Linked DNA regions of Homo sapiens. The protein of the gene in region 4 interacts with the protein of the main gene of each other region in a biochemical or structural test. Each region holds a gene or a part of one and is shown on either strand. Other genes may lie near its edges. The genes, in order: APPL1, SDK2, RAMP3, LDB3, FAT1, KCNT1 and TMEM178B.

Region 1 (3,500 bases), on a different chromosome or scaffold from region 4:
AATTGTAAAGGAAGAAGTCAAACTATCCTTGTTTGCAGATGATATGATGATCTTATATTTAGAAAAACCTAGACTCCACCAAAAAACTATTAGAACTGATGAATTCAGTAAAGTTTCAGGATACAAAATCAACATACAACAATTAGTAGCATTTCTATATGCCAACAGTGAACAATCTGAAAAAGAAATAAATAAAGTAATCTCACTTACAATAGCCACAGATAAAATTAAATACCCAGGAGTTAACCAAAGTGAAAGATCTCTATAATGAAAACTACAGGCTGGGCGCAGTGGCTCAGGCCTGTAATCCCAGCACTTTGGGAGGCCGAGACAGGTGGATCACTTGAGGCCAGGAGTTTGAGACCAGCCTGGCCAATATGGTGAAACCTCATCTCTACTAAAAATACAAAAATTAGCCAGGTGGTGGTGGCGCATACCTGTAATCCCAGGTACCTGGGAGGCTGAGGCATGAGAATTACTTGAACCTGGGAGGCAGACATTGCAGTGAGCCGAGATTATGCAACTGCACTCCAGCCTGGGCAATAGAATGAGACTCTGTCTCAAAAGAACAAACAAAAAAAACAAAAAACTATAAAACACTGATGAAAGAAATTGAAGAGGACACCAAAAATGGAAACATATTCCACGTTCATGGATTGGAAGAATCAATATTGTTAAAATGTCCATACTACCCAAAGCAATCTATAGATTCAATGCAATCCCTATCAAAAAACCAATGGCATTCTTCACAGAAATAGAAAAAACAATCTGAAAATGTATATGGAATCATAAAAGATTCAGAATAGCCAAAGTTATTCTGAGCAAAAATAACAAAATTAGAGAAATCACATTACCTGACTTCAAATTACAATGCTACAGAGCTATAGTAACCAAAACAGCATGGTACTGGCAAAAAAAAAAAAAAAAGACACATAGACCAGTGCAACAGAATAGAGAATCCAGAAACAAATCCACACAACTACAGCGAACTCATTTTTGACAAAGGCACCAAGAATATACATTGGGGAAAAGACAGTCCCTTCAATAAATGGTGCCGGGAAAACTGGATATCCATATGTAGAAGAATAAAACTAGACCCCTCTCTCTCACCATATACAAAAATATTTTTTAAAAAAATTTTTTTTTATTTTTTTTATTTTTTTTTAAATTTTTTTAAATATAATTAAAATGGATTAAAGCCTTAAATCTAAGACCTTGAACTATGAAACTACTACAAGAAAATATTGGGGAAACTCTCCAGGACATCAGTCTGGGCAAAAATTTCTTGAGTAATACCCCACAAGCACAGGCAACTAAAGCAAAAATGGACAAATGGGATCTCATCAAGTTAAAAAGTTTCTGCACTGCAAAGGAAACAATCAACAAAGTGAAGAAACAAGCCACAGAATGGGAGAAAATATTTGTAAACTACTCATCTGACAAGGGATTAATAACCAGAATATACAAAGAGCTCAAACAACTCTATAGGAAAAACCTTAATCTGATTTAAAACTGGGCAAAATATTTGAATAGACATTTTTCAAAAGAAGACATACAAATGGCAAACAGGCATATGAAAAGGTCCTCAACATCACTGATCATCAGAGAAATGCAAATCAAAACTACAATGTATCATCTCACCCCAGTTAAAATGGCTTATAGCAAAAAGGCAATAACAAATGCTGGGAAGCATGTGGAGAAAAGGGAACCCTTGTACACTGTTGGTGGGAATGTAAATTAGTATAACCACTATGGAGAAAAGTCTGGAGGTTCCTCAAAAAACTAAAAATAGAGCTACCATATGATCCAGCAATCCCACTGCTGGGTATATACCTAAAAAAAGGAAATCAGTATATTGAAGAGACATCTGCACTCCCATGTTTGCTGCAGCTCGGTTCACAATAGTTAAAACTTGGAAGCCACCTAAGTGTCCATCAACAGATGAATGGAAAAAAAAAAAAAACAACAGATGAATGGATAAAGAAAATGTACACACACACACAATGGAGTACTATTCAGCCAGAAAAAAAGAATGAGATTCTGTCATTTGAATGGATGATACATGGATAAAGAAAATGGATAAAGAAAATGTGGTACTTACATACAATGGAGTACTATTCAGCCATAAAAAAGAATGAGATTCTGTCATTTGCAATAAGATATATGGAACATGGAGGTCATTATGTTAAGCAAAATAAGCCAGGCACAGAAAGACAAATATTGCATGTTTTCACTTATCTGTGGGATCTAAAAATCAAAACAATTGAACTCATGGAGCCAGAGAACAGAAGGGTGGTTACCAGAGGCTGAGAAGGGTAGTGTGGGGATGGGGGGTGGGAGGATGGTTAATGATTAAAAAAAAAAAATAGAATGAATAAAACCTGGTATTTGATAGAACGGGGGACTACGGTCAATAATAATTGTACATTTAAAAATAACTAAAAGAGTATAATTGGATTGTTTCTAATACAAAGGATAAATGCTTAAGGGAAGGAATACTCCATTTTCCATGATGTGGTTATTACGCATTGCATAAGTGTAGCAAAATATTTCATGTACTGCATAAATATATACACCTGGCTGGGCGAGGTGGCTCACACCTGTAATCCCAGCACTTTGGGAGGCCGAGGCAGGCGGATCATCTGAGGTCGAGAGTTTGAGACCAGCCTGACCAACATGGAGAAACCCTGTCTCTACTAAAAATACAAAATTAGCTGGGCGTGGTGGCGCATGCCTATAGACCCAGCTACTCAGGAGGCTGAGGCAGGAGAATCGCTTAAACCCGAGGGGGCGGAGGTTGCAATGAGCCAAGATCGCGCCATTGCACTCCAGCCCAGGTGACACAGCAAGACTCCATCTGGAAAAAAAAAAAAAAATGCATACACACACACACACACACACACACACACACACACCCCTTGTACCCACAAAAAACGAAAAACAAAGATCATCCTACTTTCACCATTTTAGCTCTAATTAGTCTCTTGAGAAACTTTGTTAGTACGATATTCTCAATAATTGTTCTATTAAAGGTTCTTTTTCCAGCTGGGTGTGGCAGCTCATGCCTGTAATCCCAGCACTTTGGGAGGCCAAGGCAGGTGGATCACTTGAGGTCAGGAGTTCAAGACCAGCCTGGCCAACATGGTGAAATCCTGTCTCTACTAAAAAAATTAGCCGGGCATGGTGGCACACAACTGTAGTCCCAGCTACTTGGGAGCTGAGGCAGGAAAATCACTTTAATCCAGGAGGTGGAGGTTACGGTGAGCCAAGATTGTGCCACTGCACTCCAGCCTGGGCAACAGAGCAAGAGTCTGTCTCAAAAAAAAAAAAAAAAAAAAAAAAAGGTTATTTTCCATAGAAAAAAAAAACACTAGAAGAAAATGAAGGGAAAACTCTCCTGCACATTGGTCTCGGCAAAGATTTTATGCCTAAGACCTCAAAAGTATAGGCAATAAAAATAAACAAATGGGACTTAAACTAAAAAGTGTCTGCATAGCCAA
Region 2 (3,500 bases), on a different chromosome or scaffold from region 4:
TTGGCAGCAGAAAGAACGGGCTCTCATGATCTGGCTTTGCCGCTTCGCTGAAGAGAGGCCTTCTGCAAGGCTCTTAGCCACTAAGAGCCTCAGTTTCCTCATCTGTACACTGGCAATAATAGCTCTTGCCTTGTAGAATTGCTAGGAGAATTCAAGATATTCCAGGGGCAGGGCCCCAGCCAGTGCCTGGCACATAGAAGGTACTTAATACATGGCAATTATTATTCTTGTTATGACGGTTTTAACATTAAGCTAGAAGTCCATGAAGAATGGTACCCTGCCACCCACCAATAAGACCTTGAATTCTTTTTCCTTACCCAGGAGGTTTCTTTAAATTCCTTCCATGGCCACATCACTGTGTCTCAAAGAGTGGCCCTCAAGCACTTAGCTCCCAGGGAGTTGTAGCAATGCAGATTCTTGGGCTCCGCTCCCAGACACTGATTGGAAAGGTCTGGGTGAGCCTGGAAGTCTTTTAACTAGAGTCTCGAGAGATTTCCCATGTGCTTGGAAGCTTGATTACTGCTGGAGGTCATCCTGGCCAGCCTGAGAGGTTGGGAGAAGGGCAGGAGCAGCCGAGCCAGCTGCTCCAGAAGTTTCTTTCAAGAGAATCATGCCTGGGGGGAGAACAGAAGGAAGGGAATCTGAGCCGAGAGAACAAGGCAGTGGGGACAACCCTGAAAGAGGACTGGAACCCCCAGCTCTAGAGGCTCCTGAAAGGCTCCAAAGGGAGAAAGTTTAGTGCTGGGAGCTAATCACAATAAAAGCCAACAGTACACAAGGGAGCGGGATGAAAGTTTAATTACATGGTGTGGCTAAGCTGTAATTATTAATTACTGACAGCAAAAAATAACTTATTGATCAGGGCCTTTCGCTAATTACCAGGAGGCCGAGTGTCGTGCTTGCCTGGGGCTCAGCTGTCAAAAGCCCCACTCGAGAGTGGAATGGGGGTGTCCCTGCTCTCCCATGCCCCTCTTTCCCTCACCCTTTGTACCCCTTGGCTTCCGCGGGGGAGTCCGGAACATTCTGGCAGTGGTTAGATGAGGGATACAGCTTGGTGCTTCCACTGGCTGCAGAAAATGGCCCCTGCCTGGGAGGAACAGAGTCAGGACCCCCACCCAGAGGCTACATCCCGCTGGCAGCCTGACACCTGCCTCGGAAATCCCACCCTCGACCCCCCCACACACACACCCCACCCCCGCTTCATGCATTTGTTCGGCAAATATTTATCGACTGCCTCTTCCTCGTGTCCTCTACTGGAAGGCCGGCATAGGGGCCAGGAACCTTGTTCTACAAGGGAAAGGAGGCTGGGAAGGAGGCCAAATTCTTTACAGCGATCCTCTGTTTAAACAGCGCCTGAATGGCTGACTTTAAAATGAAGTGTTAACCTGCATATTGGTCCACATTTGACTTTGTACCACAGGACGCAGTCGGGCTGTAAGCTAACAAGGAGGGGAGAATGGGCTTATCTTCTGTCCTAAGGACTAATGGGAATCATTGCATTTGACTTGAAAGACACACGAAAAGTCATCTAGGACCGTCGTCTGCCCACAAGGCCATCTGGTCTCTGCTTGCATACCCTTGATGATGGAGGACTCACTACTGCTCAACACCAGCTGGCTGTTAGCTATGTTTTATGCTGATGAAGAAATTGTCCCCTTATAGCTGGTTTTCCTAGGATCTGGCTGTGGTTGAAGGGGTCCTCTGATTGGCTGGAACCCTCTCCCTGTCCCTACGGACTCCCAGCCCCTCTGGGAGGCAGGAGGCTGAGTTGGAATTGATGTCGGGTGTTAGTGTGCGCCCTGCGGGGTTTCTACCCCGCTCCCCCTGGAGCATGTTGCCACAGACAGCCCTGGAGCTGCCTAAAGCGGTGGGAATTAGTCATCATAATTTGGGGCCTTGGGATGCCAATAGCAACAAATGGGCCAGCAGCAACTGGCGGCTGCAGCCCACTGCCTGTAATGGAAAGGAAAACAAGCTGGTTGCCGAGACACCCCGGGTGCCCCCTCCCCTAGGTGTCCCACCCCTGCTGTCCATGTGCTGGGCAGGAGGCAGAGCCAGTGAGCAGCGTTGAGCAGGGATGCTCAGCATCCCCGGGGGAAGGGAGAGAGGGGACTGCAGGGCTTGTCCCCTCAGACTCCCTGGGCCTGGTGCCTGGACCAAAAAGCCTCTTGCTGAGCCCAGGGAGCCCTGGGGAGACCCTTCTCCTGCAGACGTGGTGAATGGCTCCCAGCGTGGCTTCTGCCCCTTTGAATCCTGCCTCCATCACTGGGCGATGCTGAGCTGAGCCAGTTTTCTCATCTGTAAAATGAGTAAAGTTAAAAATAGTTGTGTCTACCAGCCAGGCACAGTGGCTCACGCCTGTAATCCCAGCACTTTGGGAGGCCGAGGCCGGCAGATCACTTGAGGTCAGGAGTTCGAGACCAGCCTGGCCAACGTGGGGAAACCCCATCTCTATTAAAAATGAAAAAATTAGCCAGGCGTGGTAGTGGGAGCCTATAGTCCAAACTACTTGGGAGACTGAGGCAGGAGAATCTCTTGAACCTGGGAGGCGGAGGTGGCAGTGAGCTGAGATCGTGCCACTGTACTCCAGCCTACACAACAGAGCGAGACCCTGTCTCATTAAAAAAAAAAAAAAAAAAGACTGTTATCTACCTTTTAGAGTTGTCTTGGATAATCAAATGAGATTGTCCAGATCACTTTGAAAATGCCCTTTGTAAATGTTAAGTTCTTATAATGTGTCCATTACAGTCCAGGAGGGTGTCCTGATCACTGCCCCTCTACTCCCCAGACATGAACCTCCCCTCCCACCTCATCTCCTCACTCCCCCTGCATTCACTCCTGTCCCCACACTGACTGCCTGTTGTTCCTGGAATTTACCAGGCCTCCAACCTGGCACTTGAAGTTCCTGCCTTTCCATCAGTGGTGCCCACACCACCCAGATGTCTACAAAGTTCACCCTTGTTTCCTCCAGGACTTCCTCCTAATATGTCTTATCCATCTCGGAGCACCCTATAACGTGGCATCTTCCAGCACCCACTCCCTCGCTCTCCATCATTTTCTCCATTGCACTCAGCTCCAGCTGACATATATTGACTTGTTTGTTTATTATTGGTGTCTCTGGAGGGCAGGGGCTTTGTTTCATTCACTGGTATATTTCTAGCCACTAGGGCAGTGCCTGGCACGTAGGAGGAGTCAGCATAATATGAAGACTGAATGAATGAATGAATGCTTACTGGAGGCATACAGCCCACGGTCATCTGGCCCCTCCCAGCTCTCCAGCTTCCTGCCAGGCCTCTCGCCCCATCTCCAGAGCTGATTGACTTGTGAAATGCCTCTCGTCTCTGTACATCCAGCACACCCCATGCCATGTAGCCCTCAGCGCACTGAGCAGCCAGGTACCTCAAGAGTGGGGGCCCCGCCCTCCAGCAGCTCCCGCAGATGCATCCATGGAATGGGGTAGTGTTGCCATTGAGACAGGAGTCCCTGCTCAGATTTTCTGG
Region 3 (3,500 bases), on a different chromosome or scaffold from region 4:
AATGCAGCACCTGAGACATGCCCAGGCATTAGAGACACCTCAACAGCTAGGTCCATGGACAAACCCTCATCTTCCCTGACCTGCTTCTCCCACAGGGCCTCAGATTCAGTAGCCTGCTGTCCACCCCAACCCCCCGCCAGCTGATCCAGGAGCTGGGGAGCCGTCTAACAACACCCTGCAACAGCCTTCACCTTCAGAAGTTCCCAGCATCTATGTGTGTGATGAGAATCACATGCGGTAACCTCTGTGCCTCCAAAGTCATTCCACTGAACTGCTACCCAGGAATGCCACCCCCCAACAACCATCCCCAGGGCTGAGATGAGCCAGACAGACCCTGGAGAAGACCCTCTGTGGACAGCGAGTCTACAGGGCAAGAGGAGTGATGTCTAGCCCCAGAACCGTCCCAAGAGGAGGTGAGGCAGGGCTGAAAGCCCCTGCTGTTCCCAAACCCCACTCCCAGCCAAAGCTAGGCCACATGGAGAAGCCCACGGAGCAGAGGTAATCCCAGAAGACAGCATGGACAGTGGCTTCAGGCTCAGGTTGCAGAGCCAACATGGCAGGGCCTCTCCAACTCCAGCTCAGCCACTCACCATCTTTGTGGTATGGGCCATGTCATTTATCCTCCCTGGACCTCAGTTTCCTCATCTGTAAGTGGGTTTAATAACACTTATCCTATCAGGTGGTTGAGAGAACCAAATGAGTTGAGGTCCATGTGCCCCAGCAAGTGCCTGGCACAGAGGAGGTCATGGGGTGAGCCCACCCCAGCTGTTAGGTTTGGGGCAGAGCTGAGCACAGCACCCATCTCTGTGGATCCACAAAATCTGCATTTTTGTCACATATCTAGAGAGGTCCACATTCAGTGCTTCTCTAGAAAACCGGGAACTACTTATGATTTATTCATCCCCTGGATAATCTGGGGCCTCTCCACTCCTCCTTCAGTCAGGCTCCCCAGAGCACTCTCCCTAAAAAAGATGCACCACAACCCAGGATGGGAAGGAGAGGAGCCCAGCAGGCTGGAAGCCGGGCAAACCCCCCAGTCAGACTCCCTCTCCCCCCACCCACCTCTGGGGTGTTTGCCCACCTTCCTTTATGTTTCACCACCTGAGTGTGTTCCCAGGCAATATAGTGTTGCATTTGGAAATCCCATAGCAATGCTCCTTAACTGGGTACAGAAGGAGCCCATTGCTGCTATTGGAGGGAGGTTCCCAGGAGAGGACACGCTCTGGTTGCCCCGAGGGGCAATGAGACTCCTCCCCAGGGAAGGCCACAGGCAGGCCATGGGCGAGTTTGGGGAATAGGGTCTTCCCAGCCATGACTCGACTCCTGATGGGGTCGTCATGTGGACCAGTCCTATTGAGGGGAGCAAGCCACCTCTCCTCTAAGCTCACCAAGGCCCACCCTGCTTCAGTGGGGACCAAAGCAGAATGAACATTCAGGGGAAAGAAAGGAGTGTCCTTCATTCTTGACTGAGCTGGGCTGCAGGGCATGGGCAGGCAGTCACCATGTCAGGTAAGCATCAAGTGCCCTCCACCTGGGCCAGGCTGCCTCCACCCAGGGTGTACTGCCACGCTGGGGCACCGCCCTCCCTGGGGCTTCCCTCTCCTGCCTTGGCTCCGCTCCCCAAATCTCATAGCTTCTTTTGTCGTGGTTTGCTCCACACCTTGGCGCACAGCCGCCAGAGCTTGAGAAAGGTATGTGGGAATCAGATGCTGGAGGTGCCACACGTCTGACAGTATTTTCGTTTCTCCCTAATTAGTGGACAAATTGGCGGGAAATAGCACACTAGCTGAGAAATCACAGTCCGAAATTCTCAGGTCCTTGCATCCCACAGTCCTCGGTTTCCAGGGCTGCGGTGGGGGAGCCTGAAGGCCTCTGATCCCCTCATCTCCAACCTAGAGCTCATTTTTTTCCTCCTTCTGGATAGGTGTAGAAGTTTTCCTTTGTTTCCACAGCTCTGATATTCCAGGGTCCATGTGGGACATTTTCCTCCCTCGTGCTAGTACCGGGCAAGCCCTCACCGGCTGCAAGCTCATGCCCTCAGCCCCTGGCAAGGGCCCTTTATCCTTCCATTCTCCTGTTCTCTTTCTAGAATTCCTACTATCTTGGTGTTACGCCTGGACTGACCACTGACCTCCTGATCATCTTCTCTGTCTCTCTCTCCTATTCCTGGGAGATTTCCTCAACATCTCCCTTCCAACCTTTCTATTCCATTTCACTTCTATTGCATCTTCCATTTCTAAACCTCTTTCTTTGTTCTCATTCATCACATGAGAGATAGTTGTTGCCCTCTGAAGATATCAGTCGTGACGTTTGCAGTTTTCTTCTTGGTGCATGGCCCCCGGGTTTGCTTGGTTCCATCTCTCTGGTCTCTGTCCTTCAGGGTCAGAGCCTTAGGTCAGATTTCCAGGGACCCTGCTTGGAAGTGACTCGTGACTGGGAGTGGGGACTGAGAGCTGATGAGACACTGGGACCCTGCAGAAGAGCTTGTCCCCAGAGCTTCCAGGGGTTGGGGGGGTCACTGCTTCTAGGTCCTTCCTCTTGGCTGGTCTCACTCCTCAGAAAGGACAGCTCCAATCCTACCCTAGACCACCCTCCTGGACCCAGTGGCAAAAGATAATGCGTATCAGCCGCTCTCTCCAGCCTCCCTCTCTGGGACACTGTGCCACGTTCTCAATTACATGGGAAGGCCCAGAAACCCTGGTGTCACCAGCTCCAAGAATACACCTCCAGTGTCCAGCTGGGGTGGAGGAGGGCTCTGGACACCTCACTGCTTCTCAGCTACTCTTGCCACTCTCTTGGGAGCTGGTGCTGCCGGCCGGGTCGTGGGAGGGCTCCGCAATGTCAACCTGGCTGTTCCCAGCTCCCCTTTTCCAGCATCAGGTCTGACTTCACCAAGGGCACTCAGTCAGTGGCTCTTGCCCACTCACTCACTGGCTCCTAAATGCCCATCGGGTTGCCTCCACTCCTGTCCTCCCAATCCACGGCTGGACATCTCTATTTAGTCTCTTTACCAAGGCTTTAGCGGGTTACAGAGAGGAGCAAGACCAGAAGCTACGAAGCTATGACCTCCTCTTCCCTGACTCCACCCCCACCAGTGGGTCCATTCCAGGCCTGTGTCCAGGCTCACTGAGGACCAGGAGGAGCCTGCAAAACCCCTTCCTGAATCCCAGCACCCCTTCCCAGCAGACTCAGAATTCCATTCCACTTGGTTCAGCAAGCAGTTCCCCCACAGAGTGGGGCTGCAGATGTGACAGCCTCAAGAAGCCCCCATCTGCTGGGCCACTAGAATGGCCAGGGCCGGGGAGGCTTCCTGGGGCAGGGCCATGGTCAGTGTCTCTACGGAAGACAGGGGCTGGGGTGCTAACATGCAAAAGCATGAGGCCAGCACATTTAGGGTCTGGCAGCAGCCACCAGGGGGTGGCACAAGACTGCAAAGCCAGAGGTGGAGTGGGGTGGGGCAGAGGACTGTGAGGCCATGAGCAATTTCCAAGGAGGTAAGG
Region 4 (3,500 bases):
GAGCTGGGAAGGGCATTCACTAGTACAAGAACCCAAGACGTTTCTTTTCTTTCTTTCTTTTTTTTTTCAGATGGAGTCTTACTGTGTTGCCCAGGCTGGAGTGCAACGGCAGTATCTCAGCTCACTGCAACCTCTGCCTCCCGGGTTCAAGCGATTCTTCAACCTCAGCCTCCCGAGTAGCTGGGATTACAGACGCCCGCCATCATGCTCGGCTAATTTTCGTATTTTTGTAGAGATGGGGTTTCACCATTTTGGCCAGGCTGGTCTTGAACTCCTGACCTCAGGTGATTCGCCTGCCTTGGCCTCTCAAAGTGCTGGGATTACAGGCGTGAGCCACCGCGCCCAGCCAAAACGTTTATTTTCTAATTTACAGTCAGGGGAAAGAAGTTTTATTTTGTTTTGCTTTTTCCCTTGAGGAACTGAATGTTTTCTCCTTTCTGATTTTAAAGTAAACTAACTTACTGTGTTTCTCTTTTTGCCCTCAAATTTGCTACCCAGTTAGTCCCTGCAGCTCTGTTATTCTTCATAATCAGCATGCCTGCTTTTCCCGCCTCTGATTTTCTGGTTCTACTGTCTTAGCCTTCATGTCTGTGTTACCTTTTCTGGAACCTGCTTCAAATCCTTTCTGAAGGGGGAAGCCTCTGAATAAATGAGTGACTGACTTCCACCTATCTAATGAAGTGCTTTGTCTCTTGAATTTACAATAATTTACTTAGCATTTTAAGATAACATATAGCATTTTGGGGGTACAGAGAAACTCTGAATTCACTCCGTGAGATTACAGGAATCTGCAGGAACATCAAAGTCTGATAAATATCACAGGGGCAGAGGAAGGGGTCTCGCATATTTGATGCTCTACACGCCTTCTCTGGTTTAATCCTCACCACAGCTCTGTAAGGCAGGTGTTTACAGACGAGGAAAGTAAGGCTCAGAGAAGGTTAGTAACTTGCTCAGGTTTACAAAGCAGCCCAAAGTGGAACCAGGAATAGAATGAAGGACAAAGTCCACAGCCAAGGCCTTTTCAGACTAGACCTTGTGGTCTCCAAATCAAAATAACCTGAAAGGTTTCCCAGTGGTCATAAGATGCCAACTTGTGATCTACATTTTTTTTTTTTTTTGAGATACAGGATCTTACTCTGTTGCCTAGGCTGAATACAGTGGTGCTATCACAGGTTACTGCAGCCTCGAACTCCTGGACTCAAGCGACCCTCCCACTTCAGCCTCCTGCGTAGCTGAGACTACAGGCACGCGCCACCACACCTGGCTAATGTTTATATTTTTTGTAGAGACTGGGTCTTGCTATGTTGCTGGTGTCAAACTCCTGGGCTCAAGCAATTCTTCTGTCTCGGCCTCCCAAAGTGCTGGGATTAAGGTGTGAGCCACCTCACCTAACCAGATCCACATATTTGATGCATAAAATAAGCTATAGACTCTGCACCTCACTCTCCCCAAAGCTGCAACCATATGGGCAGGGGAGATAGTTAACTTCCTTTGTGTGATATTAGCATGATTCTGCCATTAAAAGCAAAAACAAAGGTTTCTTCCAGAAATAAAGGCCTCTGGGTGGTCGGATGTGAATGGATTAGGCAGGAGTTAGTTCCCTGTGCCTGCCCCTTTCTCCCAGGCTGTGGGGCCTCCCCACATGCCATCGAAGTGTTCCTACCTTTCTCGCAGTAGGGCTCCCCGTCTTCCATGTGGAAGAGGCTGTTCCCAAAAGGCTTCTTGCAGGCCGCACAGACGAAGCAGGTGGTGTGCCATGTCTGTCTCAAGGCATGCATTACTTCCTGGGGGAAAGAGCCTAAGCTCAGGACAGAAAGGAGAGAGGGAGCGGGCTTGACTACCCCACCAGGCTCCAGCCACTGCCCGAGCATCCTACCAGGGAACAGGGCAGGAGATCTCAGGATGCAGGCCTTGGTCACTCTGAAGAAAGACCCAGGGGTGTCAGAGAAGGGGTTGTCACTCTCCAGCTGGGTGCCAGGTTCTGTGCTTTCTTACATAAACTGTGAGGCTTAATCCTCCCATTAAACCTGGGAGGAGGTACTGCTTATTACTGTCATTTACCAAAGGGGCATTGAGGGTTAAGGCCACATTCTGGTGAGTGGTAAGGTCAGGCTGTGAAGCAACCACTTGCTTTGCAGAAGTTCCACCACCACTTCAAGCTGTGTGGAACAGGCACACAATCATCTCTTGCATCAAGTTCATTTATCCCCAAGTTTATTGGTGGCAAACCAATTCCCTTTTAGGATAAAAATGGAGTTGCTTTCTCTGTTACCAGCAACTTCTTGGCTTCCTAATGGGATCCCACGATCTTGGGGAAGGGCTGGGGAAGAGACATGGGTCAGAGGAAATGGAGGCCTCCCACTTACCCCCATAATTTTGGTGTTGCACTTGGCACACAGCGGGGCAAAGAATTGCTCATAACATCGCTCACAGTAAACGTTGTTCTGCTCTTCCACAAAGCACACATCTGCCAGGGAAGTCTTGCAGTAGGCACAGGTGAACTCTTCAGGGTGCCAAGAACGGCCCATGGCTACCAGAAATGGGCCCCTGGGGAAGCACAGAATGGCACCCAGTAAGGCAGCTCCCAGAACTTGGAATTAGATATTTGAAGAACCCCAACACTGTTTATACTTTTACCCAATAACTCTGACTTTTGTGACTGTTCTGATGAAGTAATGTGAAATTCAGAGAAAGCTCCATGCAGAAAGGTGTTCATTGTTGCATCACTTACAATAAAGAAAATCAGGAAGCAACTCAAACATCTACCAATAGGGGACTGGGTAAACATATTATAGAATTCAGTTGACCACTGATAATGATAGTAAGAAATGCAATAATGATGATGCTGATGGCTAACATTTATTAAGTGATTACTCTGTGTCAGGCTCTATTCAAGAAGACTTTTGCATTTATTAACTTGCTTAATTCTCACAACAATCCTACGCACTAGGTACTATTATAATACCCATTTTTAGATAGGGGAATTGAGGCACACAGAGTTTGAACAACTTGTTTAAGGCCATAGGGCTAGTAAGTGGTAGACCAGGATACAAACTTGTATTGTCTAGTTCCAGGTTAGCAGTCAGAACAGTGGGACTATGAAGACATTTTTTTATATTCTAATTTTTACTTTTCTGTGTTTTCCAATTCTTCACTAATGAGTATGTATTACTTTAGTTTTAAATAAAAGTGTATTTTTCACGTATATAAGCTCACACCACACATGCACACAAACATACTGTATTCAAACAACAGCACCCATGGTCCATGGCTTCTAAGTATGAAATCACTTGTTTTCATTTTAGTCTGGCAGATGCCCACCAACCCCCTGAGCAGCCCAGGCCTGTCTGTGGAAAGACCCAGAAACAACCCTAAAGGAAAACTGGGTCAAAACCAACACTGTCTAACAAAATGCCCTGTAAACCTACTGACAAGCCTGGTGATTCCCAGACCTCAACCTTAGCCCAAGGGGGAGTTCCTGGCACCAGGCATCCTGCTGG
Region 5 (3,500 bases), on a different chromosome or scaffold from region 4:
CCCATCCAACATCTCGCCATCTCTCAATGTCTAAAAAACATGGTCAACTGTATGTCTCATTACTTTAGCAAACTGGAATTGGAACTCAACACGGAACTCCTCTAAAACCAGCCCCCGGCTCAGACTCCTCTTTGCCACGGCCTTGGTCGCTCCCCCTACTCATGTAGAAAGTCGGGCTCGATGGCATGCTGGCTGGCTGTCACACCAGATGGTCTTCCTCGGTGGTGGCTTTGGTCCTTTCACTCCTTCCCCACCTCTGCCTTTCCAGGGCCCCCTTGCATCCACTCCTCCCTGTCTAAATAATGGGCACGATGCTTCCAAACTAAGCTTAAGAACTCGTCTCATGTCATCTCTACCTTACCGATATAAAAGGCTCCAAAGTCCCTATTTTCTCTAGGATCGAGTTCAAATCCCTTGGAACGACCGCCACTGCCCACTGTAATCCAGTTCACCCTTTTCCAAGACTCTCAGTGCAGACTCCCCACTTCTGGCAAACTCAGTGGCTACTCCCACAATCCCTCCTCACACTCCATGGCCCCTCCCCACCCACTCCTGACGACCCACTTACTGCCCCCCGAAGCTGAGCCAGCCCTTTCTCTGGGCAGCCCTTCTCACCCTCTGGCCCCAGGGACCACCCCTGCTCGAGCCACATGCCCTCATCTAACCTTGGAGGGAGCAGCCCTTCCTACGTCTACTTTTAGTTCCCACTGAATGGTGAGCCGCGCAGATGCAGGAAGCACGCTGTCCACCTCTGAGCTTCTCCAGCGTGCAGAAGAGCAGATGCCCCCAAAACAGTGTCTCACGGCACGTCGGCACTTTGTTTCCCGTCAGATCCTTCCCCCAAAACAGCTGTATCCCCATATTAAGAGAATCCCCTCATGAAAAGGTTACAGAGCATTTTCAGTGTTGGATGCAACTGGAGTCCTGTCCGTAATTTAGTTTTCTAGAATGAGGCTTTTGATTTATTGAGCATTCCCGCAAATAGTTCTGAAGCTTTTCCAAGTCTTACCCCATTTAACACCTCTGCTTAATCAGTAAGTGATCATAAAACACATGTGAATTACACCACAGCGCCAAATGATGGTCCCATTGAAAGAATTAAGAAATTGAAATTCATAACACACAAATGTAAGGGAAGAGCTGCTTACCTTTTCACAAACTGGACTGTTGTCATTTGCATCCAGAACTTTCACTTCAACTATCGCTTTTGATGAGAAGGTGCCATCAGTTGCCGTGATAGTAAGAAGGTAATTGTCCCTTTTTTCCCTGTCTAGAGGTTTCTTCACATATACCTTCCATTCATTCTGTATAGTTTCAACGGCAAACTGTCCTAAAGGATCCCCTCCTATTAAATCAATGGAGGAAGATAATAATCAAATTTGTTGAAAGGATAAAAATAAGTAACAGAAAAAATAAACTGTACAAAAGATGTATAATGTTATAGTTTAAAAGAATTGAGTATTAAAAGAATTAATTTGGCATATATTAGCCTTCCAATTTACAAAAACAAGGGCAGCATTAAAATGCATAAACATAGCATTAAGACTACTAATCATTTAGCCTGCATTAAAACTATAGATGTTTTTAATTATATTTATTATACACTAAGTATAAGGTTCAAAAGAATGAGTCACAAAAATCAAAAACAGTCTAATGAAACAACTGGTAGCTTTGCTCAGGTAACAAGCTTGAAATGAGGCTCAACAGATGTTATTTCTACGTATTATTTTAGATATTTTTAACTAAAATCATCCCTTAAATCCCCAATTTCCATACAATACAGATCTTATACTTTATGCTTCTAAAAATCATTTTAAATTAATTAAACCGTTTGGTATGAATTTTTTTTACCTGTTATGAAATATGTAACTTGTCTGTTGATCTCTTCAGAATCAGCATCCGTGGTACTTAAGATGGCAATCACCCCACCTTGGGGGTCATCCTCACTCACAGTCCCTTTATAGATCTCGGCCGTGAATCGTGGTGGACTATCGTTGACATCGGTGACGGTAACATCCACAATGGCTGTGGAGGATAGCTGGATCTTTTCACCATGATCTGATGCAACCACTTTAATCTGGTAATTGTCTCTCTTTTCATGGTCAAGTTCCTTTAAAGTTGTAATCCAGCCTGTTTCCATGTTAATGGCAAAGGATTCAATGACTTCCACACTTTGTGACTGATCCAGGCTATACATAACTTGGCCGTTGGTTCCTGAGTCAGCATCAGATGCCCTGATCTGAATTACTCTACTTCCCCCTGGCAGGTTTTCAACAATGAATGCCTCATATGGACTAGATTCAAAGACCGGGCTGTTGTCATTTGCATCTTTCACTTGGATACTAACATCTACAGAAGCCACCATCTCATGGTCATCTTGAGTGCACCTGGCCAGTATGGAAAACTGATACCACTTAGTTGTCTCATGATCAAGACTCTTCTCCAACTTCAGTCTCCCGCTCTGTCTGTCAATCACAAAGGACTCATCCCTATTGCTTTCTGGAGTATTCCCTTTGACCAGGCTGTAAAGAACAGTCCCACTATGTTCTGCTCGGATGAGATCTATCTCTGTTCCAATAGGCACGTCCTCTGACACTGTAAAGGTATAGAAAGGTTCTGAAAATTTTGGAAGCTGCATTTCCGGTGGAAGGATTTTAACATAGACAAGAACAACAGATTCTTTTGATGGAGACCCATTATCCACAGCTCTAACAAAGAAAGTGAAGAATTCATTTTCCAAGCCAATGAGGCTCTCCTTTGTAGTGATTACGCCGGACAGTTTGTTAATTTCCAAATTCTCTTTTACACTTTCAGAGTCTGCTTCAATGGCATAGGTGATGTCGGCATTGGAGCCCTCATCGGCATCACTTGCAAGAACTTTAACGACTGAAGTCCCTTTAGCAGCACTGGACCCGATATTCACTTCGTATTTGGTTGCTCGAAATTGTGGTGCATTGTCATTGTCATCTGTAAGGATGACATTCACGGTGCAGAAAGCAACTTTTCCTCCAGCATCCTTAGCCATTAAACGGACTGAGATCACTTTCTCCGCCGGGGTTTCTCGATCAAGTTTTTCCAAAGTAAATATCTGTCCTCTCTCATTTATGTAAAATCTGTCTTTGGCAAAGTCATTTACAATATGGTAAGTAACGTGACCATAAATACCAGAATCCCCATCCGTAGTTTTCACCTCCATCACCAGGGTATGTAGGGGAGCGTTTTCAGCTAGTTCCACTTCATATTCGTTCTGAAGGAAAGCAGGACTGTGCAAATTGCCTCCAATTACAGTTACATGAACCTGGGTGGAACTTCTAAAAACTCCATCAGACACTGACAGGTTAAGACTGTAAAATGGCTTCAGGGCGTGCCGGTGCAGGTTTGAGAGGGTGATAATCCCTGTTGCACTGTCAATGACAAAATGTTTATGATCATTGCCAGACAGAATGGAATACTGCAACTTGTCTATGTCTGAACTGTCTGCATCATAGGCTTTTACACAG
Region 6 (3,500 bases), on a different chromosome or scaffold from region 4:
TGGGTGGCACCTTCAGAAAGGCCTGGGAGGCTGGGGGCTGGTCAGGCCAGATGGGCATGGGGGCTGCCTGCCTTGGTGGGGCCTGGGAGGGGGCGGGGGTGCACCTGGTGTCCAAACTCACAGGCTACTCCCCCCAGGCCTCAGCTTCCCCACCACCAGTGCAGGAGGGAGTGAGTGTCAACAGCCTTCTCTGAGCCGTGCTGGGGCCGACACATCCGTGGGACCCGCTCCTGCCTCGGCTTTCCCAGGGCCCTGTGGGTGGGTGGGTGGGTGGGGCCTGGCAGGCTTCTCCATGTGAAGCTGCGATGTTCTGGTGCTCCGCAGAAGCTGCGTGGGCACGGAGGGGTTGCTTACCTGGGCTCTGAGGTCGTGGGGCTGCAAAGGAAACAGGCGCAGTCTGGGACCTGTGGGCGCACCCCTGCCCCCCACGCCGCCTCAGCCTGGGGTCTGCACGGAACATGCTTAGGGCTGGTGGGCACGGTGCCTGCTGCTGTGTGGACTGCAGCACAGGGGCTGCCCGTATTCTTCCTGAAGACTCCCCTGAGCCTCTCTGCCCCCGGTAGGGGTCATGGCTGCTCCAGCTGGAAGCGCTACACGTGGGCACACGGACCAGACGGAAGGAGCTGCCAGCAATAGCAAAGCTGATCTAGCCCAGGTCCCTGACACTGAAGGTGGGGATGCTGTGGGTCACACAGGACAGGGGCTGCCACAGTCCCAGCCCCCGGAAGGTGGGGATGCTGTGGGTCACACAGGACAGGGGCTGCCACAGTCCCAGCCCCCAGGCTGCCCCAGAACCTCCGAGGTGGAGAAGACGTGGCTCTCTGTCCGGTAGATGCCAATGGGGATCTCGGCGCTGGAGGAGCAGAGCTTCTGGAAGAGGCGGCCGTACGTGCGGATCCACAGGTCGCCCTCGGTGATTTTCATCTGCAGGGTGGGAACCCTGAGTTGGCTGGGGCAGGTGGCAGCACCCAGAGCCTCCTGGCCACCGTGAATCAGGGGCAGGTGCCCATCCACCCACTTGGACAGCCCAGCACGCCCCCAGCCCAGCGCAGCCAGGGGCACTTACGGCACAGAGGTACCCCGAGCCCGGCGTGGTGTCCAGGCCCAGCAGCAGCCGGGTGATGGTGATCATGTAGTCCTTCACGAAGGACTGGCCAGGGAGGGAGGGAGGGAGGGAGGGAGGGAGGGAGGGAGGGAGGGAGCCACAGTGAGGCACGCGGGCACGGGCGTGGGACACAGGTCCATACCCCACCGGCCACGGGCTCGCCACCCCTCATGCATACACACACACAGAACCACCAGGTCCCCAAGCACCACATGACCCACAGGCAGAGTTCTGGGAGGCCTTTTCTAAGAAAACTCCCTTGCCAGGCACCCATAGGTCAAAAAGGGCCCAGAAATCCCTGGGGCAAGGACAGGGCCCAGAGGTCTCCTTGGAATCCAGGGAAGGTCATTCAGAGGGAGTCCTATCATTCAGAACAGGGACCAGGCTGAAGAGCTGAGGGCATGACGGGGGTCCCACCCAGGCGCCACCCTCCTGCTGCCGCTTCCCCGCTGACCTGGTAGAGCAGTGTGTCCAACATGCTGATGCTGAAGACGCGGCCGGCGGCGAACGGCAGGCGGAACATGAAGGCCAGGTTGGAGCCATTCTCTCGCTCCCTCTGTGGGAAAGGAGGGGCCTCAGATGGGCTGGTGCCGAGGTCCCTCCAGTGGCACGGCAGCCACGGGGTCGAGGGCACTGTGTGTGCACCGTACATGTGTGCATGATACCTGTGTGCACATTTGTGCATGGTGTGTGTGTCCACGTGTACACAGTGTGTGTCTGCATGTGTGCATACACCGGCAGGCCTGAACCAGCTCTATCTTCCCAGACACACTCAGGGCCAGAGCCCGGGAGGAGTGATGTGGGGCTCTGATGAGAAGGTGGACTCCCGGCGGCTGCCATGGGCACTGCGCTTGGTCAAGCGCCCTGCTCTTGCCATCCCGAAATTCCAAATCCTCCTGATAATCCTCTCCTCCCCCGGTGTTTTGTAAGTGGTGCCGGAGGGCGTGTGGAGTCTGGGCTGAGGAGGAGCAAGCATCGGGCTCCCTGCTGTCCTTGGCCTCCCCGTCCCTGTGCTCCAGGCTTGCAATGGACCCACTGAGTTTCCTGGGGCTCCCGTAACAAATGACCGCAAACTTAGCAGCTAAAACGACACCTGTCTCCTCTCTCCCGTTTCTGGAGTCGGGAGTTTGAGGTGTCTCAGGCTGGATCCAGGCCTGGGCAGGGCCCCGCTCCCTCTGGAGGCCTGGGGGCCTCCTTCTCTTGCCTTTTCCAGCTCCTGGAGGCCACCTGCCTTGGCTTGTGGCTCCCTCTTCCCTCTTCTGAGCTGGCCGTGCAGCTTCTTCCCACCGGATGGGGACCTCTGGCCTCTCCCTAGAAGGACCCTGACGGCGTGAACCTGCCGGATGCTCCAGGAGGATCTCCCATCTCGAGGCCCGTGACTTAATCCCATCTGCAGAGGCCCTTCTGTCACGTGAGGCGGTACATCCACGGGCTCCGGACCCGGCCGTGGCCAACTCTCGGGTCATTCTTCAGCGGAGGGCCCCAACCCTGGAGCTCGGCCTCCAAGCAAGTGTGCACAGGCAGGCGTGTGCGCCCACGGAGGCCACACTTCCCCCCGGAACCAGAACTCGATTCACAGGTAAAAGACACGACAGCGACAGGACAAGCAGGCAGAAGCCCCTTTTCCTCCGGGTTCGCCCTTACTCATCAGTGGCCGGTGGGAAGGCTGGGGCGTGAGAAACAGTGGAATTAGTTTCGTGCGGCGTTTCCGCTCTTGGGGCAAGAACCAGGTGCGATGAGCTGCGATGGGCGTGTGAGTTTGCAATCGTGGTGATTTGCATCCAGAATTCCAGCCGTACTTCGCGGAGACGAACGTGAAATTCCAGAACAACTTGCAATTTTAATTTTCCTTTACTCAGAACAACGCTAAACAGGAAACAAGAACCACGACAGGGCCAGAGAGAGACGTGGAAGGAAAGAAAAAGCTGGACGTTTCAGGACCTTCCAGAGATTTCCTCCTGCTTTCTGGACAGGAGGGCTTCAGCAGGGGCTGAGCGGGTGCCATTCACAAGTGACAGTGAAGACAGGAGCACACAGGAGCGGATGAGCCCTTCCTGAGCACGAGACCCCCGGTCAGAGGGAGCAGGACAGGCACCGTGCAGCCCCAGGATGGGCAGAGCCAGCCTGAAGGAAGGCTCCTGGTGAGGAGGAGAGATCACACAGGCTGACCATGTGAAAGCAATGAAGTGGTGGAGGAGTCCTGGGTGCTGGAGACCAGGGGAGGTGGACGGCAGGGGAGGTGGGCCTCAGGGGAGAGACTCCTCTCACACACCGGGGCTCTGAGAGCCTTCTGGAGCCAGCCCTCAAGGGGAGATGCATGTCACCCCACCAGCAGCATCCTTAATAATAGTTTCATTTTTTTGCTTGGTTTTTTTTGAGACAGGGTCTCGCTCTG
Region 7 (3,500 bases), on a different chromosome or scaffold from region 4:
GGAGGCCGAGGCAGGCATATCACCTGAGGTCAGGAGTTCGAGACCAGCCTGGCCAAAATGGCAAAGCCCCATCTCTACTAAAAATACGAAAATTAGCCAGGCATGGCGGCATGTGCCTGTAATCCCAGCTACATAGCCTGGGCAACAAGAGCGAGACTCTGTCTCAAAAAAAAAAAAAAATTCTGCTGAATGAATGAAGAGCCTTGGCTACGAAGTATTCCACACACTAAACAGAATCCAGTTCCTTTCTCTATTGAGTGTTTAAATGTATTTTTTTTTCCTTGGGGTAATTTACCATTTTAACCACTTTTAAAGTCCAGTGGCATTAAGTACATTGACAGTGTTGTGCATCTGTCATCACCTTTCTCTTAGGTTTTTCATTTTAAACCCTGAACTGCAAATCACATTTCAAGCCATTTGAAAGAGGAAAAGTTCGTTTTTATTACATGTTTTTAGAGTGGTAAGAAATTAGCTATTCCTATTGCAAACTAGAACCCAGGATGATCTCTTTAGAAATTGCTTTGTCTCTCACATCTGTCTGTCTGTCTGTCTGTCTGTCTCTCTCTCTCTCTCCCTCCCTTCCTCTTTCTCTTCCCACCCCCCATCAACTTTTGCCTTGCCCCTCTTTTCACCCTCCCTCAACCATGTACCTATTATCTACTCTTTGACACCTAAATCTAACTTTCTCATCAAATGTAAAAGTATGAAAGGGCTTGGAGTTTATAGAATCTAAACACATTATTTTACATATGAGAAAATAAGTCATATAAAAGAATATATGAATTCTCTCGAAAACAGCAATCAAGACATTAGGATGATTTTTCCATCTATTCATTCACCAAGTCACACCCTTCCTCCTCTCTCTGTGGATTGTTTGGGAGTAGTAAGTTACAAACATATCTGCATCTAAATAGACGCTTGTGATTGTAACATCTAACATCTAGATGTGTGTGGGGGGAGGTGTGCGTGTCTGTGTATGATGGGTCAAACTAACCCAAGTGTGTTTAGCATTCTGCCTGAAGGCCTAGGATTACTTACTAATAGCAAAGAGGGGGAAATGTTTTCAACTGACAATCCAAAGTGGAATACACAGTATTGATCCTCTAATTGACCCTACAGTAAAAGAATAAATAAACTGACCTCTTCAACAGAAAAAAAGGCTCTAGACTTTGTTGACTCAATAAAAAGAGCTCACTCCTGCATTCCCTGACTAGTTGATTCCTTATCCAATTGATGCAGGTAAGACCTCCTGAGGAAGCACCTGATACCACTGCACATGACAATGAACTTGGGAAACCATGAGCTGGAGTGTAAGCTCCCTTAGGACAGGAACCAACCATGCCTTTTTGTTCTCCCTCCACACGTAGCAAAGAGCTCTGCACACAGCAGGTGCTCAAAACACATCTCTTTACTCCATCCATTCATTTGCCCAGTAAGTCACAGGTTTTCTTCTTGAATCACTGACTCTCACTGGTTAGTTGAGTTTTAGGATGATTGAGGAGGAGAGATGGGACTATGAGTGTTTATTTATTACATATGGGCATACACATGGCGTATACGCAAGGAGGTGCACATCATGTATACAAGACTATGGATGTTTGCATGTGTTTCTTTGAAGGTGAGTATGTCTTAAGTTTTTTAATCAGCAAACAGTTTTTCAGAACCTACTAAGTACAGGACCCCAAGTGTGTTTTAGACATTAAACAGTTCCTGCCCTCTAGGAATTCAATAAAGAATGCAGAAAGAAAGAGCCTGTGGAGGTCCCTCAGCTAATGAAACCTCCTGAACTCCAGTCTATATTAGTTTTACCACCTCTTTTCCCTGCAACACCCAAAGCCTCCTTGTATGGAACTACAGTCACATGTCACTGAACAACAGGGATATGTTCTGAGAAATGCATCGTTAGGCGATTTTGTCGTCATGCAGACATCAGAGTGTACTTCCACAACCTAGATGGTGTAGCCTAGTACACACCAAGGTTATGTGGTATAGCCTATTGCTCCAAGGCTATAAACCTGAACAGCATGTTACTGTACTGAATACTGTAGGCAATTATAACACAATGGTAAGTATTTGTGTTTCTAAACATAGGAAAGATGCAGTCGAAATGCAGTAGAGAAGACAAAAAATGATACACCTGTGGAGACTCTTACCATGAATGCAGCTTAGAAAACTGGGAGTTGCTTTGGGTGAGTCAGTGAGTGAGAGGTGAGTGGCGAGTGAAAGTGAGGTCCTAGGACATTACTGTACACTACTGTAGACCTTATAAATACTGTACACTTAGGCTACACCAAACTATACAAAATATTTTTCTTTCTTCAACAATAACCTCAGCTCACTGTAGATTTTTTACTTTATATACTTTTTAATTCTTTTAACTTTACAACTGTATGAAATATTTTCTTTCTTTTTTTTTTTCTTTTTTTTGAGATGGAGTTTCACTATTGTTACCCAGGCTGGAGCGCAATGGTGCAATCTCAGCTCACTACAACCTCCACCTCCCAAGTTCAAGCAATTCTCCTGCCTCAGCCTCCCAAGTAGCTGGGATTACAGGCATGTGCCACCATGCCTGGTTAATTTTTTGTATTTTTAGTAGAGACGGGGTTTCACCATGTTGGCCAGGCTGGTTTCGAACTCCTGACCTCAGGTGATCCACCCACCTCAACCTCCAAAGTGCTGGGATTACAGGTGTGAGCCACTGCACCCAGGCTCTTTCTTTATATCCTTATCCTATAAGCTTTTTTCTGTTTATAAAATTTTTTATTTTTCAACTTTTGAAACGTTTTTGTTAAAAACTAAGACACACACACACACACATTAGCCTAAGCCTGCAGAGGGTTGGGATCATCAATCTCGCTGTCTTCCACCTCCACATTTTAGCCCACTGGAAAGTCTTCAGGGGCAATGGTGCACATGGAGCTGTCACCTCCTGATAACAATGCCTTCTTCTGGAATACCTCCTGAAGGACCCACCTGGGGCTGTTTTACAGTTAACTTTTTTTTATAAGCAGAAGGAGTACACTCTAAAACAATGATTAGAAGTATAGCATAGTAAATATATAAACCAGTAACAGTCATTTTATTATCAAGTATTACATACTGTACATAATTGTTTGTGCTAGACTTCTATACCGCCGGCAGTGCAGTAGCTTTGTTTACACCAGCCTCAACCCAAACACAGGAGTAATGGGTTGCTGCACTGTGACATCTATGATGTCACTAGGCCATAAGAATTTTTCAGCTCCATGATAACCTTATGAGACCACTGCAGTCTGTCTTTAACCAAAATGTTACAGGGCACATGACTGCATTTCATTTTTGCCTTACTTGTCATTCTTCCCCTTTGCGCTTCGTAAGGGCAGACCTTCATGGTGCCCATTACCCTGTGCTATATTACACGATTCATATATTAGATATTATTTTTACTCTATGACTATTTTTCTTCAGATGGAGTCTCGCTCTATCACCCAGGCTGGGGTGCAGTAGCACGATCTCGGCTC

The links.
Region 1: the proteins of LDB3 (region 4) and APPL1 interact in a test that uses a peptide from one of them, tested with the Homo sapiens proteins (one large-scale study listed by IntAct).
Region 2: the proteins of LDB3 (region 4) and SDK2 interact in a test that uses a peptide from one of them, tested with the Homo sapiens proteins (one large-scale study listed by IntAct).
Region 3: the proteins of LDB3 (region 4) and RAMP3 interact in a test that uses a peptide from one of them, tested with the Homo sapiens proteins (one large-scale study listed by IntAct).
Region 5: the proteins of LDB3 (region 4) and FAT1 interact in a test that uses a peptide from one of them, tested with the Homo sapiens proteins (one large-scale study listed by IntAct).
Region 6: the proteins of LDB3 (region 4) and KCNT1 interact in a test that uses a peptide from one of them, tested with the Homo sapiens proteins (one large-scale study listed by IntAct).
Region 7: the proteins of LDB3 (region 4) and TMEM178B interact in a test that uses a peptide from one of them, tested with the Homo sapiens proteins (one large-scale study listed by IntAct).

What each region holds. Positions count from the first base shown.
Region 1 is NC_000003.12:57,262,229-57,265,728, reverse strand, and holds part of APPL1 (DCC-interacting protein 13-alpha), read right to left. Parts: intron 1-3,500. UniProt on the Homo sapiens protein: Multifunctional adapter protein that binds to various membrane receptors, nuclear factors and signaling proteins to regulate many processes, such as cell proliferation, immune response, endosomal trafficking and cell metabolism.
Region 2 is NC_000017.11:73,637,946-73,641,445, reverse strand, and holds part of SDK2 (protein sidekick-2 precursor), read left to right. Parts: intron 1-3,500.
Region 3 is NC_000007.14:45,178,291-45,181,790, reverse strand, and holds part of RAMP3 (receptor activity-modifying protein 3 precursor), read right to left. Parts: intron 1-3,500. UniProt on the Homo sapiens protein: Accessory protein that interacts with and modulates the function of G-protein coupled receptors including calcitonin gene-related peptide type 1 receptor (CALCRL), calcitonin receptor (CALCR) and G-protein coupled estrogen receptor 1 (GPER1).
Region 4 is NC_000010.11:86,717,011-86,720,510, reverse strand, and holds part of LDB3 (LIM domain-binding protein 3), read right to left. Parts: intron 2,548-3,500; coding exon 2,367-2,547; intron 1,785-2,366; coding exon 1,664-1,784; intron 1-1,663. UniProt on the Homo sapiens protein: May function as an adapter in striated muscle to couple protein kinase C-mediated signaling via its LIM domains to the cytoskeleton.
Region 5 is NC_000004.12:186,615,857-186,619,356, forward strand, and holds part of FAT1 (protocadherin Fat 1 isoform 1 precursor), read right to left. Parts: coding exon 1,852-3,500; intron 1,346-1,851; coding exon 1,149-1,345; intron 1-1,148.
Region 6 is NC_000009.12:135,782,185-135,785,684, reverse strand, and holds part of KCNT1 (potassium channel subfamily T member 1), read right to left. Parts: intron 1,662-3,500; coding exon 1,560-1,661; intron 1,151-1,559; coding exon 1,067-1,150; intron 925-1,066; coding exon 796-924; intron 376-795; coding exon 355-375; intron 1-354. UniProt on the Homo sapiens protein: Sodium-activated K(+) channel. Acts as an important mediator of neuronal membrane excitability. Contributes to the delayed outward currents. Regulates neuronal bursting in sensory neurons. Contributes to synaptic development and plasticity.
Region 7 is NC_000007.14:141,080,564-141,084,063, reverse strand, and holds part of TMEM178B (transmembrane protein 178B precursor), read right to left. Parts: intron 1-3,500.